4 linked regions of the Homo sapiens genome follow. The protein of the gene in region 4 purifies or fractionates together with the protein of the main gene of each other region. This does not show direct contact. Each region holds a gene or a part of one and is shown on either strand. Other genes may lie near its edges.

Region 1 (3,500 bases), on a different chromosome or scaffold from region 4:
AAAAATGCAATGGGGTTATAATATACAACCATTAAGACTATTCTCCAAACATACACATACATACATTAGAGCATCTTTAAAAGAGCATGAAAACTCCACTATAAAGGAATTATGACATACAGAAACCAAAATAGCTTCTATGGAAATAAAACCAAGTCCCAAAATACCAATAATACTTTACATTTGAAAACCCTTAATGTTTATAGGCAATGTTCTGTCACATAAACCGTTGGATTTGATCTTTGAGCAAAAGGTATTCCAGCCTTTGCTTTTGTTTGTAAACAGAAAAAGAAAACTGCAGTACCTCTGGTCTTTTCTTTTCATATTGATATCACACATGAGGAAAGAGGAAGACAATGATGAGCTATCTACTAACCACCTGCATGTACAATCATGAAGACCACGAAGGATCACTGAAGGAGCAGAATCAGGAGCTGGGGGACCGGGGCCCCAGCTGCGTAAGCCTGGCCTGTCATTGGACCTGAGTGCCCCTGTGGGTAGAGGGACTTTGCCTATTTGTTCACACTGAATCCCAGCCCTATAACACGGCCTGGCACATAGAAGAGCTTCAAAAATGCTTGTTGACTCAAAGACAAAGCAAACCACTTCACAAGGCAGCAGTAGGAATTATGTATGAAAGATGTACCTGATACAAAAAGGGCACTTAATATTAATTTAATCTGAGTATTAAGGCTAATTTCACTTTTATTTTAAATACATTTGACTTATAATCTCCAAAAAAAAATCAATAATCTCTTTCCAAAGCCGATGGCATATCAGTAACTCTAATGAAATTTCAAGATCACTGTACATTATATGTATGGAAATATCACTCTGGACCCCAAGAATATGTACAACTATTATTTGTCAATTAAAAAAATAAGAATTTCAACAAATTTTTAACTTTATTTTGAAGTCAGATCTAAGATAAATAACATTTAAATCATTTTTCTGAGAACTTCTATAATACAAGTTGTCCAATGTGTAAATTTAAAGTCCTTTCTTAAGAGGAAATATAAATATACACTACTTGAGCAGACAGTATGTGATAAATGAAATTTAGTTTTATAAACTCAAAAGAAATTCTTCTAAAAGTATATGTATACACATATATGTATAAGTATATATACATATATGCATAAATACATATTACATAAGATGATTTAAAATATCAAGCAACCCATTAGAGTATAAACAAACGTGAAAAGTAACTGGTAGAAACACTAGACAGTTTTACATAAGAGGAAGGAAGGACTCGATGACAGACCCCTAAGCTTCTGTGAGTCTGTAAGCACTGGATCTTTTTTCCCTCCATCAATTCCTGAATATCTTCACCCCTGGAGAGTCAATTTAAACATTTTATATATAAATTGGTTTGAGTTCATTGACAGAAATACCTGTTCCTCCAGTGAGAGCTCCCTTGGCTATATCACCGTTTCTCTGATCACTGGTTTTCTACGAAGAAGAAAAAAAGAGGACTTTTAAAAATTAGAGTTACAAGTGAAAATGAAAAAGATAAAAGCATACAAAAGTAGTTAGAAAACGGCCATGTCAATACCTTATCTGTAGCTTCTGTTCTCCTGGTTCTTTTCATAATCTCCTCAAGTCGCTATAGGAAAGGAAGAATTGAGCAAGAAGATTAGACACAGAAAAAAAGCCAGCCTGGCATATTTAACTGATGAAATAGATTATTTAAAATGGTCTGTTATTTTGGAAAAATACAATATGCACTTTTTTTTTTTTTTTTGAGATGGAGTCTTGCCCTGTCACGCAGGCTGGAGTGCCGTGTGGCAAGCTCTCAGTTCACTGTAGCCTCTGCCTCCTGGGCGCAAGCTGCCTCAGTCTCCCAGGTAGCTGGGATTACAGGCGCCCGCCACCACGCCCAGCTAATTTTTACATTTTTAGTAAAGACAGGGTTTCACCATGTTGGCCAGGCTGGTCTCGAACTCCTGACTTCGGTGATCTACCTGCCGTGGCCTCCCAAAGTGCTGGGATTACAGGCATGAGCCACCCGGCCCAGCAGTGCTGCTTTGTCTTAACTGGGGTTATTCAAGAAAGTTGGAACTGCCTTAAGCTACATGAAGTGGAAGTAAGTGTTTTTTGGTGACGGCTAAAACACCGAGAGAGATTTCTTTGCAGGAGATTGTTATCACTGAGGGGGCTACTAGTTTATGTGGCAAGGGTAGAACACGCGTTTTCTGACGGCCAGGGCTAGTCTCTGGGTCTTAGAGGTGCAAGTTCGCGTCCCGGGCCTCTCTACTAAGACGCAGCTACCTTCTTTCTCTCCAGGCGCTCTTGCTCTTCTCTCTGGAAATGCTTCTCTCGTTCCTGCCGGACCCTCTCTGCTTCTTCACGAACGCGAGCTTCTTCTTCTTTCTGAAAACAGAAGGTCGGCGTCTGCCTCTGACAAACAGGCGGGCTGCCCGGGTCTCCCAGGGGGTGCCCAGAGGTGGGGGCGAGGTGGCGGATGGAGAAGGTGTGGAAAGCGGGAGCACCAGCAGTCCAGTCCGCACCCTCCTCTGCTGGGCTGGGGCGTCTCCCTGCGGGACTGGGGCCGGGGCCAGGGTGGGGTGCGGCCGCACCTGCCTCTGGGCGCGCTCTGCCTCCTCCCGCTCGCGCAGCGCCCGCTCCTCCGCCTGCCGCTGCAGCTGCTCCTCCTTCTCCCGGGCCTGCTCGGCTTCCAGCCTGCGCGACTCCTCCTCACGGCGAGTCGTCCTCTCTTCAGCCACACGTTGAGCCAATTCCTCTCTCTTTTGTCTGGAAAAAGACAGAACAAAACCAAAACCAAAGACACCTGAGGAGAAATCTTTGAAGAGAGGCCTCCGTCGGTGGTTCTGTAGGGCGGTTCCTTTAGGCGTCCAGTAGAAAAATCCCCACTGGATGCCTTCACCACTGCTAAGGGACAAAGCGCGAAGCCACCCTTAGACTTCCTCCCGCCTTGCCAGCTGCATTGCTGTCCGTGCTAAATAGAAGCAACGTGTAACCACCAATATCTTGGGGAGAGCTGGCTTTTTGGAAGGAATTTAACTATTTTTTAAAGGCTCTGACTTGTTTAATTCAAATAATGTGACTTCTTAGTAATGAATTTGAAGCACCCCAGCCAAAGGGAATCTTTGTAAATAAATAAGGGTCACAGTGTTCTGTCACAGGACAGGAGGAAGACAGCCATGTAAGCTCCCTGTTGGAGCCAAGGGAAAGGCATGGCCAAGATGGCGGTCCAGCGAGTGCATGAGATCCTTCCCCAGGGTACAGTTGTGTTCGTTTGAAGAACAATTATATTGACATTCGTCTTATTAGGCCCAGAAGATGACCAATTAAACAAACTGTTTCTGGAATACTGCCTGGCAGGCAATCATGGGGCATGTAAAGATCCCACCTGGCTACCCTCCGAGAGGAGTTTTATCTGGAAAGGAGAAAACATGAACCCTTATTATGCAGCCTTAATGTGATAATTACAAAGATAAAACGGAAACCTGGAGATTGGAGATGTGTTAAGTAAA
Region 2 (4,178 bases), on a different chromosome or scaffold from region 4:
ACGGTCTTGCTGTGCCACTCAGGCTGGAATGCAGTGATGCGATCATAGCTTACCACAGCCTCAAACTCAACTCCTGAGCTCAAGCAATCCTACTGATCACTTAGTAGTCTCTGAGCCTACTCTGATCCTACTGATAGTGAGGACTACACATGCATGCCACCAGGCCCAGTTTTTTTTTTTTAGAGACAAGGGTCTTGCTAAGTTGCCTAGACTGGTCTCAAACTCCTGGCCTCACACGATCCTCCTGCCTCAGCCTTCCAAAGCACTGGGATTACAGGTGTTAGCCACTGTGCCTGGCCATAAAATTCTTTTTTTGTTTTTCTTGAGACATTGTATCACTCTGTCACCCAGAATGGAATGCAGTGGCATGATCTCAGCTCACTGCAACCTCCACCTCCCCGGTTCAAGCTATTCTGCCACATTAGTTACCAGGTACTTGGCACATTTGTTAACTGTTGGCTTTTTCTTTCAAGTCAGTACAGTCTCTGGTTCTGGATATACCTGCCTCATGTAGGGTTCCCAGAGTTACAAAAACGAAGAATAACTGTCAAGCAACTTTACACTGTTCTGCTGGCATCTAACAAAAAGAGCATTAGAGATTTCCAGAGAGCACACACGTGTATTCCTTCCTTCCTCAAATCCCACTAAAAGAAGATAAAGATAGATAAAGGGAAATAAAATCCGTACCAGGAGAAGGAATAAATGCCACCAGTGAATGACAGATGGTAACCAACTTCAGGAAAATGAAAAGTTGTTGGAATATTGACCTACAAACCAGAGTAGGACAAAGTAAAATAAGAATATGCACCAAGGCCGGGCGCGGTGGCTCACGCCTGTAATCCCAGCACTTTGGGAGGCCGAGACGGGCGGATCACGAGGTCAAGAGTTCAAGACCAGATCAGCCTAACCAAGATGGTGAAACCCTGTCTCTACTAAAAATACAAAAAAAATTAGCCGGGCGTGCGCGCGCCAGTAATCTCAGCTACTCAAGAGGCTGAGGCAGAAGAATCGCTTGAACCCAGGAGGCGGAAGTTGCAGTGAGCCGAGATCGCGCCACTGCGCTCCAGCCTGGGCGACAGAGCGAAACTCCTTCTCAAAAAAAAAAAAAAAAAAAAAAACGCATTAGGGAGAAATGCTATTCCTACAAGCTGAGCCGAGCTAGAGGTTTCAAGCTTGAAGTCAGTGGGCCCAAGGATCATAAACTGGCAGCGCGACAATAACCATGGAAATCACTCAGTCCTCCTCCCTCCCCAATCTCCAAGCAAAAAGTCCAAAATAGTTATGTTTGTCTCCAAGATAAAATCAAAAGTTTTTTAGAAATGAAGGGGTAGGACCCCTACTGTGAATACTGGTGTTAAGAGTACACAGCAGAAACTTAGGCTTAATAATTTTACAGTTCACACGGAGGAAATAAACAGCTATACTCAGCAGAGAAGTTGCTCCACCACTACTGCAAAGCCTGAAGCAAAAGGCAGGTTCCCAGTCTACCCATCTGGTACCTGCTCACATGCCCTCAACTGAAACCTTCCTATCTAGGCAACCTGGTACAGAGCCAAAAGTCAATTAGCGACCCATGTACTGAAAACAAGACCTATTACTCATATTAATCAAAATATAGACAGATAACCAGTGCCCATCACATGTTCGAGAAAAAGCAACAGAAGGAAACAGGACCAAAAAGACACAGAACAATTGACCAACAGTAAGTAAATTATTTAGGAAATAGATTTTTCTAATTATCATCTTTGTAGATTCAAGACTTTTAATATCTATAAAATAAGAAAAGGCTGCTGCACCTAGGACCCTGTGTTTACTAACTCAAAGAATAAAAACTGGAGAAGGGAAGAACAGAAGGAGGCAGTGTAAGACACCATAAATCCCTAAATTTAACCACAATAGACAAATTATTAAAAAAAAGGAGGTAGATAGTAAATATAATATATTGTCCACCCTGGAAAGGGGACAGGGGGAATAGTGATTTTACTTTTCATTTTACATTTTCAAGTTGTTTTAACTATGTACATGTATTAATACTAATAATAATGTTTTAAGTATTAACCATAAAAAAATGGCACGGGACACCACCACCCCAAACAATTGCTATTTAAACTCTCTCGTGATACTAACAATGATTTACAGAGAATGGCAAATTTCAAAATCAGAAGTCAAGAAGGGTCCCTGCCACTCGTTTTCCTCAAAAGGCAGATAAAATATTTTAGAGCCTTTTTGAAAACTTGTATATGACTATAAAAACCCGAGAGGCAAAGCAAAGCCTACAGAATACGCCAGAAAAAAAAGCTGCTTCCCACCCCCAACTCAAGGTCTAGGGCAAAGGAGCCGGTAGTAGGAGGGTGGAATACCTGAACGCCTGGATGCCGCGGCAGCGCGAGGACCTGATAGTCACAGAGGCCAAGGCCAGAGAGAGAGACACCGCGGCTAAAGCCTTTCCCAGGAGGCGTCCCGCCATGAGCGCCCCGAGGGCGGCTTTGCGATGCTAGGTCGCTCTTAGTTGGTGCCTCCGCCTCCCCACACCCCACAGCTCCGAGTCCCGGCCGCGGGTATCTGATGGGCACTAGGACCTGTCTGCCGTTGGGTTCCCGAACGGGAGTAGCTGTGCCTATCTATAAATCACAGATCAAGAGCCCTCCCACGATAAGAGTCCACCGCTTTCCCCAGTGCATCGAGAAAAATCCAGACCAGCACGTGACGCCGAAGCCTCCAGCGCCAGCTGCCTGGGGAAACCGCGGCCACGAACCTCGTAACTTTCTCTCTGCGTAATGGCGCTTTACGGCCGCGCCGCAAAGCAAAGGTCGTGCGTTGCCGGCTTGGTAGCGCCTTCCTTCTCCGACTTCCCAGACTTCCCAGTCTGCGCAGGCTTACTTGGGGACGCAGGGAACTACCAAGAAAGTGTCAGAGGAAAGGAAAGGTGAAACAGACGAGGAACTGGAACGGGAATAAGTGGGAAAGAAGCCAAGGGGTTTGAGAGAGACTTGCTGCCCTGGGTTTTTGGTTTTTGTTTTTTGAGACAAGAGTCTGGCTCTGTCGCCCAGGCTGCAGTGCAGGGGCGCGATTTCAGCTCATTGCCGCCTCAACCTCCTGGGCTTAAGCGAGTCTCTTGTCTCAGCCCCCGACGTAGCTGGGACTACAGGCACACACCGCCATACCTGGCTAATTTTTGTATGTTTTGTAGCGACAGATTTTTGCCATGTTGCCCAGGCTGGTCTCCAACTCTCAAGCTCAAATAATCCAACTGTTTGGGCCTCCCACAGTGCTGAGGTTACAGGCCTCAGCCAACGCGCCTGGCCCTGCTCTGGTTTTTTTAGGGAGTAAGTTGTTGCGGAAGGACGCAGGTCTTAGCCATATTTTTGAATAATACTTCGTTATGGGAATGAAACCGCCTTTGCAAAATTATGACTGATTTGGGAGGCCGAGGCGGGATCACTTGCAGTCAGGAGTTCAAGACCAGCCTGGCCAACGTGGTGAAACCTCGTCTCTACTAAAAATACAAAAATTAGCTGGGCATGGTGGTAAACGCGCCTGTAGTCCCAGCTGCTCAGGAGGATGAAGCAGGAGAATCGCTTGAACCCGGGAGGTGGAGGTTGCAGTGAGCCAACGTCGCACCACTGCACTCCACCCTGGGCGACAAGAGTGAAACTACGTATCAAAAAAAAAAAGAAAAAACCTCTGCTCCCTGAATGCTCAGGGAGACTGATTTGAGTAATAATAGAACTCCGGTCTCACACAGCTGGCTCTGCATGAATTACTCTTTCTCTATTGCAATTCCCCTGTCTTGATGAATCAGCTCTGTCTAGGAAGCGGGAAAGGTGAACCCCTTGGGCGGTTACAGCAAGAGGAGATAGTCCAGAGACTCAGCCCTCGTATCTTGAAGGGTTTCTTGGTTTTTTGTTTTTGTTTTCTTAACCAAGTTGTCTGCTCCAATTGCTGGATTTCATTCACAAGGCTTTGCTAGGACCAGTTGTGGCCCTTGGAAACTCGTGGAGGAGAAAAGCTGTGAAAATAGGCACACATGCTGGAGGAGGAACAGAGGGCAACACACATAATACTGGATAATAAACTTGAGAGGCAAAAATTAAACAAACCGACAAACAAAGTTGGAAACCCAGACTGTCCAAAGCAGCTTGTAATCAGGCTTACTTCATTTATATTAGCTTATTGAT
Region 3 (3,500 bases), about 95 Mb from region 4:
AGGCTACCTATAAAGGAAATATAGAAATCTCTTTAATAATGAAGATTTTCAACCTTAGTCATAAATCCTTTTTTTGTTCTTTGAGGCGGATTCTCACTTTGTCACCCTGGTTGGAGTGCAGTGGTGCAATCTCAGCTCACTGCAGCCTCCCAGGTTCAGGTGATTCTCCTGCTTCAGCCTCCCAAGTAGACCTGCCACTACACACAGCTAATTTTTGTATTTTTAGTAGAGACAGGGTTTCGGCAAGTGGGCCAGGCTGGTCTCGAACTCCTGACATCAAGTGATCTGCATGCCTCAGCCTCCCAAAGTGCTAGGGTTACAGGCATAAGCCACCATGCCCGGCCAGTAAATACCCATTTCCAAGATAGCGTCTTTCAGATCGGCAACGATGCAAACACTTGATAACAGTGTTAGCAAGGGTGTGGTTAAATGGGCAGTCCTGTTCATTACAGATCAGGAGACTTCACTGTAGAGCCTTTAAAACTTTGTGAATTTTGAACCATGTTAATCTATTAGCCATTCACAAAAATGGTAATAAACAAATGTTCTCATATGTTGAATGAAAAAAGTGACATAAAACTAATTTTATATATATGTACATAAAACCTCAAGTATTAATTAGTAGAGTGACCACTTCATACTGGTTTGCCTGAGACATTCCTAGTTTTAAAGTTGAAAATCATACATCCAAGGAAGTATTTCAAGCTCAGGCAAACTAAGACAGTTGGTTACCATGGAGACTTAAAAAAATAGAAAAAGGAATTTAGAGCCGAAACACAGACACCATTCAGCTCACCAAATGGGGAGGTCAGTGATCTATGAGATACTTCACTCTGTAGCATTACAGAAAAGAGGCACTGACAACTACTTATCAAAAATACCTCTTGGCTGTGTTTGAACTTGAATGTTCTCTGATTATCCCAAAAGCAACAGTACATTGGTAAGTTCACACTTAATGCTTAACTCTTTCCAAGCTGTTAATAGTTTTATATGCATAGTAACTTTTAAAAGGGAACCATCTTGACATACATGGCAAATTTCGAAGGCTCCAGATTCAAAAAGACATAAAAGAAAATGATAAAAAGAAAATATGTAAATAGGCAAAAATATGATCACAAAGTAGCAAATAATATGGTATATCCATCTTGGTGTTATTTCTCCTAATGAAGAGACTTGTAACCGTCCCTGGGGAACCTAAAGGCAAGATCAAAATTTGGAGGAAAAAATCATAGGAATATGATCAAAGCAAAAATAAGCGTTTGGGAAGCAAAGTAACCAACCATAAATGCCAGAACTATGAATGCTTGATCCAATAAGGCTTGGAAAAAGCCAGGATAGAAAACTACACAAAGCTTAGTAAGCATCATACTGGTGTGTATTTTGTTTTGCTCTGAATATCATCCTTTTAAAATACAGTAAATAAAAATATGAAATATGGTTGAGTTGCAGGGAATAATGTAGTGGTTAAGAATGTGACCTCTGGAGTCAGGCTGCCTGAGTTGGAATTCTGATCCTACACTTTACAAGCTGTGCAACTTTGGGCAAGTTACCATCGGTTAAATAGCAGTATCTGCTTCGCAGGGTTGTCAGGAGATTAAATTTACATAATGTGCTCAGAACAGTGCCTGACATGTTATAAGGGTTCAGTAAATGTCAGAAAATGATAGTACCAATAGGAACAACTTTTATTTTATAAACTAGGACACTGAAAAAGAGTATTAGTTTCTCTCTTTCAGTATGCTTATGAGAAGCCAGTTAGACAAGACTCTATATTGCACTATTTGGAGCAGCTTCCTCTATGAGTAAATATGAGAATAAATAAATACCTGGAGCTCTGACTACATTAACTGAGAGAAAAATGCACCAATTGGGCTCTCTATGGTCATATATTGCCTAGGCCTTGGAAACAAGCCAAAATCATGGTTCTCTGTGACTTAAACTAAGTTACTTAATATCTCTCAGTCTCAAGTTTCCTCTTCTATCAAGTGGGCTTAACATACTTTATGAAGTTTTTCTGAGAGTTTAATGAAATAAAGTATATCAGGTACCCAATGTTGTACCTAGAACCCAGTAGGTACCCTAGAAATTGTATCTGTCATTACTGTAATCAGCAAGAGATGCCACCTTAGCTTATAAACTTCTTGCCCATCTATGCATGAAGCAAATCCTATTACTTCATCCTTTTACCACTACTATTGCTACAAACTAGGTTATGAACAGTGGATGTTTCATCCTTTTTTAATCCAAAATCTTAAACATAAAGGGCTTGTCTTAACTTTAAAGTACAACATATGATGCATCAGTAATGTATCAAAACACTAACCTAATTCGTATCTAGCCCCCATATAATTCCCAGTGCTTTCATTAAACAAAAAAGTTAAGCTGAAATAAATAGGTTTCATCTTACATACCAACTCTGATTATTGATGATTCCTAGAATACAATGCTAAAAAAGAATCTGAGGTTGTGTGTAGGCTCAGCAGTAAAAAGTGCTGAAGTCATTCACCATTGTTTGCCAGGGAAGCAGAAGAAAGATTGAATAAACATGCATGAAAGATAGTGCAAAGGAAAAAGAATGATCCTGGGTGTGTGTGTGTGTAGATGTGTGTGGAGTATGTACATGTACCATGTGTGTGTGCACTTCTCTTCCCTGAAATCATGTTTATATGCAGTTAAGAAGTTAGCACTGACTGAGTGTGTACATGTGTCAGGCACTGTTCTAAGCATTTACAATTAACTCTCTTAAACCTCACAACAGCGGTACAAAGGAAGCCAATATTAATTAACGTTTTTGTTTTGTGGCTAGTGAGTGACGGAGTCAGAATTTGAACCCAGGGATTTTGGCTCCAGAGTCTATTCTTTTTTTTTGAGATGGAGTCTCGCTCTGTTGCCCAGACTGGAGTGCAGTGGCACAATCTCAGCTCACTGCAAGCTCCGCCTCCCGGGTTCACACCATTCTCCTGCCTAACAGCTGGGACTACAGGCAGCCGCCACCACGCCCGGCTAATTTTTTATATTTTTAGTAGAGATGGGGTTTCACCGTGTTAGCCAGGATGGTCTCGATCTCCTGACCCCATGATCCGCCTGCCTTGGCCTCCCAAAGTGCTGGGATTACAGGCGTGACCCACCGTGCCCGGCTGAGGGACTATTCTTTGAAGCAATCTGCTAAACCATCTCTTAGAAGAAATTAATGCAACTTCTCAAGTTGAAGAACATTTCCAGAATGTAGGTTTTACTTGAAAAGAAGGCATTCTGATAGACTCACAATATGGTTTTATCTGCAAATATTACCTAAAAACATAGAATTTATAGTGAGATCTCTGCGTTCCGCATCTTTCTGCCAGTCAGTTGTAAATTCTACCTCAGCATGTCTTCCATCAGTGGTGACATCAATCCGTAGTGTAGTAATCTCAAAATTTTCTTCATGAAGCTGCAATTAAATACATGGGGTTTTTGTTGTCATTTAAATTAGGTTTTCATACTACTGAATTGAAAAAAAT
Region 4 (2,333 bases):
ATGGCATTAGCATAGCTGAGCCTTGAACAACACAGGTTTGAAGAGTTTTGCTTCTTCGCAGATTTTCTTCCACCTCTGCCACCCTTGAGAGAGCAAGACCTACTCTTCCTCTTACTACTCCCACTAAGCCTACCCAACATGAAAACAATGAGGATGAAGACCTTTACGATGATTCACTTCCACCTAATGAATAGCAAATATATCTTCTTTCTTACGATTTCCTTAATAACATTTTCATTTCTTTAGCTTGTAAGAAGAGTATATAATACATATAACATAAAACATGTGCGAATTGACTATGTTATTGGTCAGGCTACCAGTCAACAGGAGGCTATTAGTGATTAAGTTTTGGGAGAGTCAAAAGTTATACAAGGATTTGAAACTGCATGCAGTAAGGAGGAGTTGGGGCCCCTAGCCCTAATGTTGTTCAAGGATCAACTGTACTAAGAAATATATGCGTTTTCCTATATTATCCTGGCAACAAAAAATATAAATATTTCTTAGTCTTATTTAATAATAAAATTTATTAGCAGATCTCTTGTAAGACAGTTGAAGAATTCATACATTTTCCAGCCCCAAAAAGGCCACACAGAATCACAAACATTCAACGTGTTCCACGATAATGATATGTATGAGATGCTCTTCCTTATAAACTTTATTACGAAGCAAATAAAATAATACATTCATAATATATGAACAAAGAAATCATACATTAAGAATCCTGTTGTGATTTGCTCTTAAGAGCAAAGAGCTGCAGAATCTCTAATATAAAAAAGAGGACATTTTCAATGTGTCCATTTTCCTAAGAAACGTGTGTATGAAATGCCTCCAAGTTTCTCATACTATATATACTTGCTTTAAAGAAGGAAATTATTTCTCATTTCATTTTCCAAATGAGAAACATTGCCTAAATTCATGACATCCCTAGGATTATTCTTAGTCTCAACTTCCACACAGAGATGTCTGAAATAGAAAACTCTTAAGTATCAGAATTCAGGGATATAAGCTTTCACATTCAAAAGTGCAGAGAATCCCAACATTAACAAACAATGGTTCCACAAAAATCAAAATTACAACTTAGACATCTCTAAAATAATAGTAATGTCACTTTAGAGTTTACAAACTACAGAAATAACTGAATTGTAACACATGCAGAGATTATTTCAAGTGCTTCTAAATACCTATTAGAAAAATGTGTATCTATTTGACAATATTATGTTCTCTGGAGAAAGATATATAAGGATTACAGCAGAGACTTCAGTATTGACAAAGTAAAATTTTTACCTTCAAGTTGCATTCTAAAATTACTATGAAGTCTCAACTTCACTGAATTAATGAAAATAAAATATATTCCACGACAGATTTTTGTGGCACAAATGAAAACTTTAAAAAATACATGAAACAAAAACAAGATGAGAGATTTCCTGATACATATAATACTATTTATATTCCCTTATCTCAATACTTGGAAACTCAATGTCCTATTTTGTAAACTAGTCATATAAAATGACACTAGAAGTATAAATGAGGTTTAATCAATTGACTCTGACAATCTGCCATCTCACCATTCATCACTGACAGCATCCAAAACATGTTATCATCTGCCCACGAGGTAGGGTGCAGAGTGGAGAAGACTAAGGCACGGGTAACTGCCACACAGTGGCAAAGTGCCGACCAGTGGCATGGGGAGCACACATCGTGTGCCCTCCAAACCCCTGCACAGCCATTCTGCCTGCATCAACGCACCCAGTCCCTTGGATGGCGTAGAACTTCCAGAATTTCAGCTTCTTTGGAATTCTCTGAGGGTGAATGCATGTACTCCCATCTATGCATGTCCAAAACAAAAGCAAAAAACGTCATAAAAAATGACACACATACCTCTTTACTTAAAATAAATGAAAAATAAAATCCTAAGAATAAAAAAAAAAAAAGCCTTATACTTCTTTGTCTCTACTGTGCCTGATGTGCCTTGTACCAACTTGACCTTTAAAAAAACTATTTGCCAAACAAATAGTTTCTTAACAACTCTTGGGTATGCTTTGGCTAGTATTAATATCCCAGAGCCAAAATACACCTTTAATATAAACCAGGGTTTCATATAGTGTAGAAACTCAGGTGATCCATGGGCAAACCTTCTTTAGCTTAATACTTATGCATACCTCTTCTCAGAAAAACAAATAGGCAGAGAAGGTCCATCTCACCTCCTAGCCACCATGACTCAGCCTGTGTTCTCTCTCCCTCTAGTCTCTCCTTGCCCTCATAGAGCTGTGGGATTCACCATGTCACCGCTTAAAATACCCAATTTGATTTGCCTTATTTGACTGTGATTTTCT

The links.
Region 1: the proteins of CPOX (region 4) and MAP7 fractionate together in Homo sapiens (co-fractionation; one large-scale study listed by BioGRID). This does not show direct contact.
Region 2: the proteins of CPOX (region 4) and NUDT9 fractionate together in Homo sapiens (co-fractionation; one large-scale study listed by BioGRID). This does not show direct contact.
Region 3: the proteins of CPOX (region 4) and TRNT1 fractionate together in Homo sapiens (co-fractionation; one large-scale study listed by BioGRID). This does not show direct contact.

Annotation. Positions count from the first base shown.
Region 1 is NC_000006.12:136,358,423-136,361,922, forward strand, and holds part of MAP7 (ensconsin), read right to left. Parts: intron 2,758-3,500; coding exon 2,583-2,757; coding exon of another isoform or gene 2,514-2,582; intron 2,377-2,513; coding exon 2,275-2,376; intron 1,610-2,274; coding exon 1,559-1,609; intron 1,456-1,558; coding exon 1,398-1,455; intron 1-1,397. UniProt on the Homo sapiens protein: Microtubule-stabilizing protein that may play an important role during reorganization of microtubules during polarization and differentiation of epithelial cells. Associates with microtubules in a dynamic manner.
Region 2 is NC_000004.12:87,421,195-87,425,372, reverse strand, and holds the start of NUDT9 (ADP-ribose pyrophosphatase, mitochondrial isoform a precursor), read right to left. Parts: upstream 2,801-4,178; 5' UTR 2,468-2,800; coding exon 2,361-2,467; intron 1-2,360.
Region 3 is NC_000003.12:3,140,440-3,143,939, reverse strand, and holds part of TRNT1 (CCA tRNA nucleotidyltransferase 1, mitochondrial), read right to left. Parts: intron 3,431-3,500; coding exon 3,292-3,430; intron 1-3,291. UniProt on the Homo sapiens protein: Nucleotidyltransferase that catalyzes the addition and repair of the essential 3'-terminal CCA sequence in tRNAs, which is necessary for the attachment of amino acids to the 3' terminus of tRNA molecules, using CTP and ATP as substrates. tRNA 3'-terminal CCA addition is required both for tRNA processing and repair.
Region 4 is NC_000003.12:98,578,946-98,581,278, forward strand, and holds the end of CPOX (oxygen-dependent coproporphyrinogen-III oxidase, mitochondrial precursor), read right to left. Parts: intron 1,826-2,333; coding exon 1,738-1,825; 3' UTR 501-1,737; downstream 1-500. UniProt on the Homo sapiens protein: Catalyzes the aerobic oxidative decarboxylation of propionate groups of rings A and B of coproporphyrinogen-III to yield the vinyl groups in protoporphyrinogen-IX and participates to the sixth step in the heme biosynthetic pathway.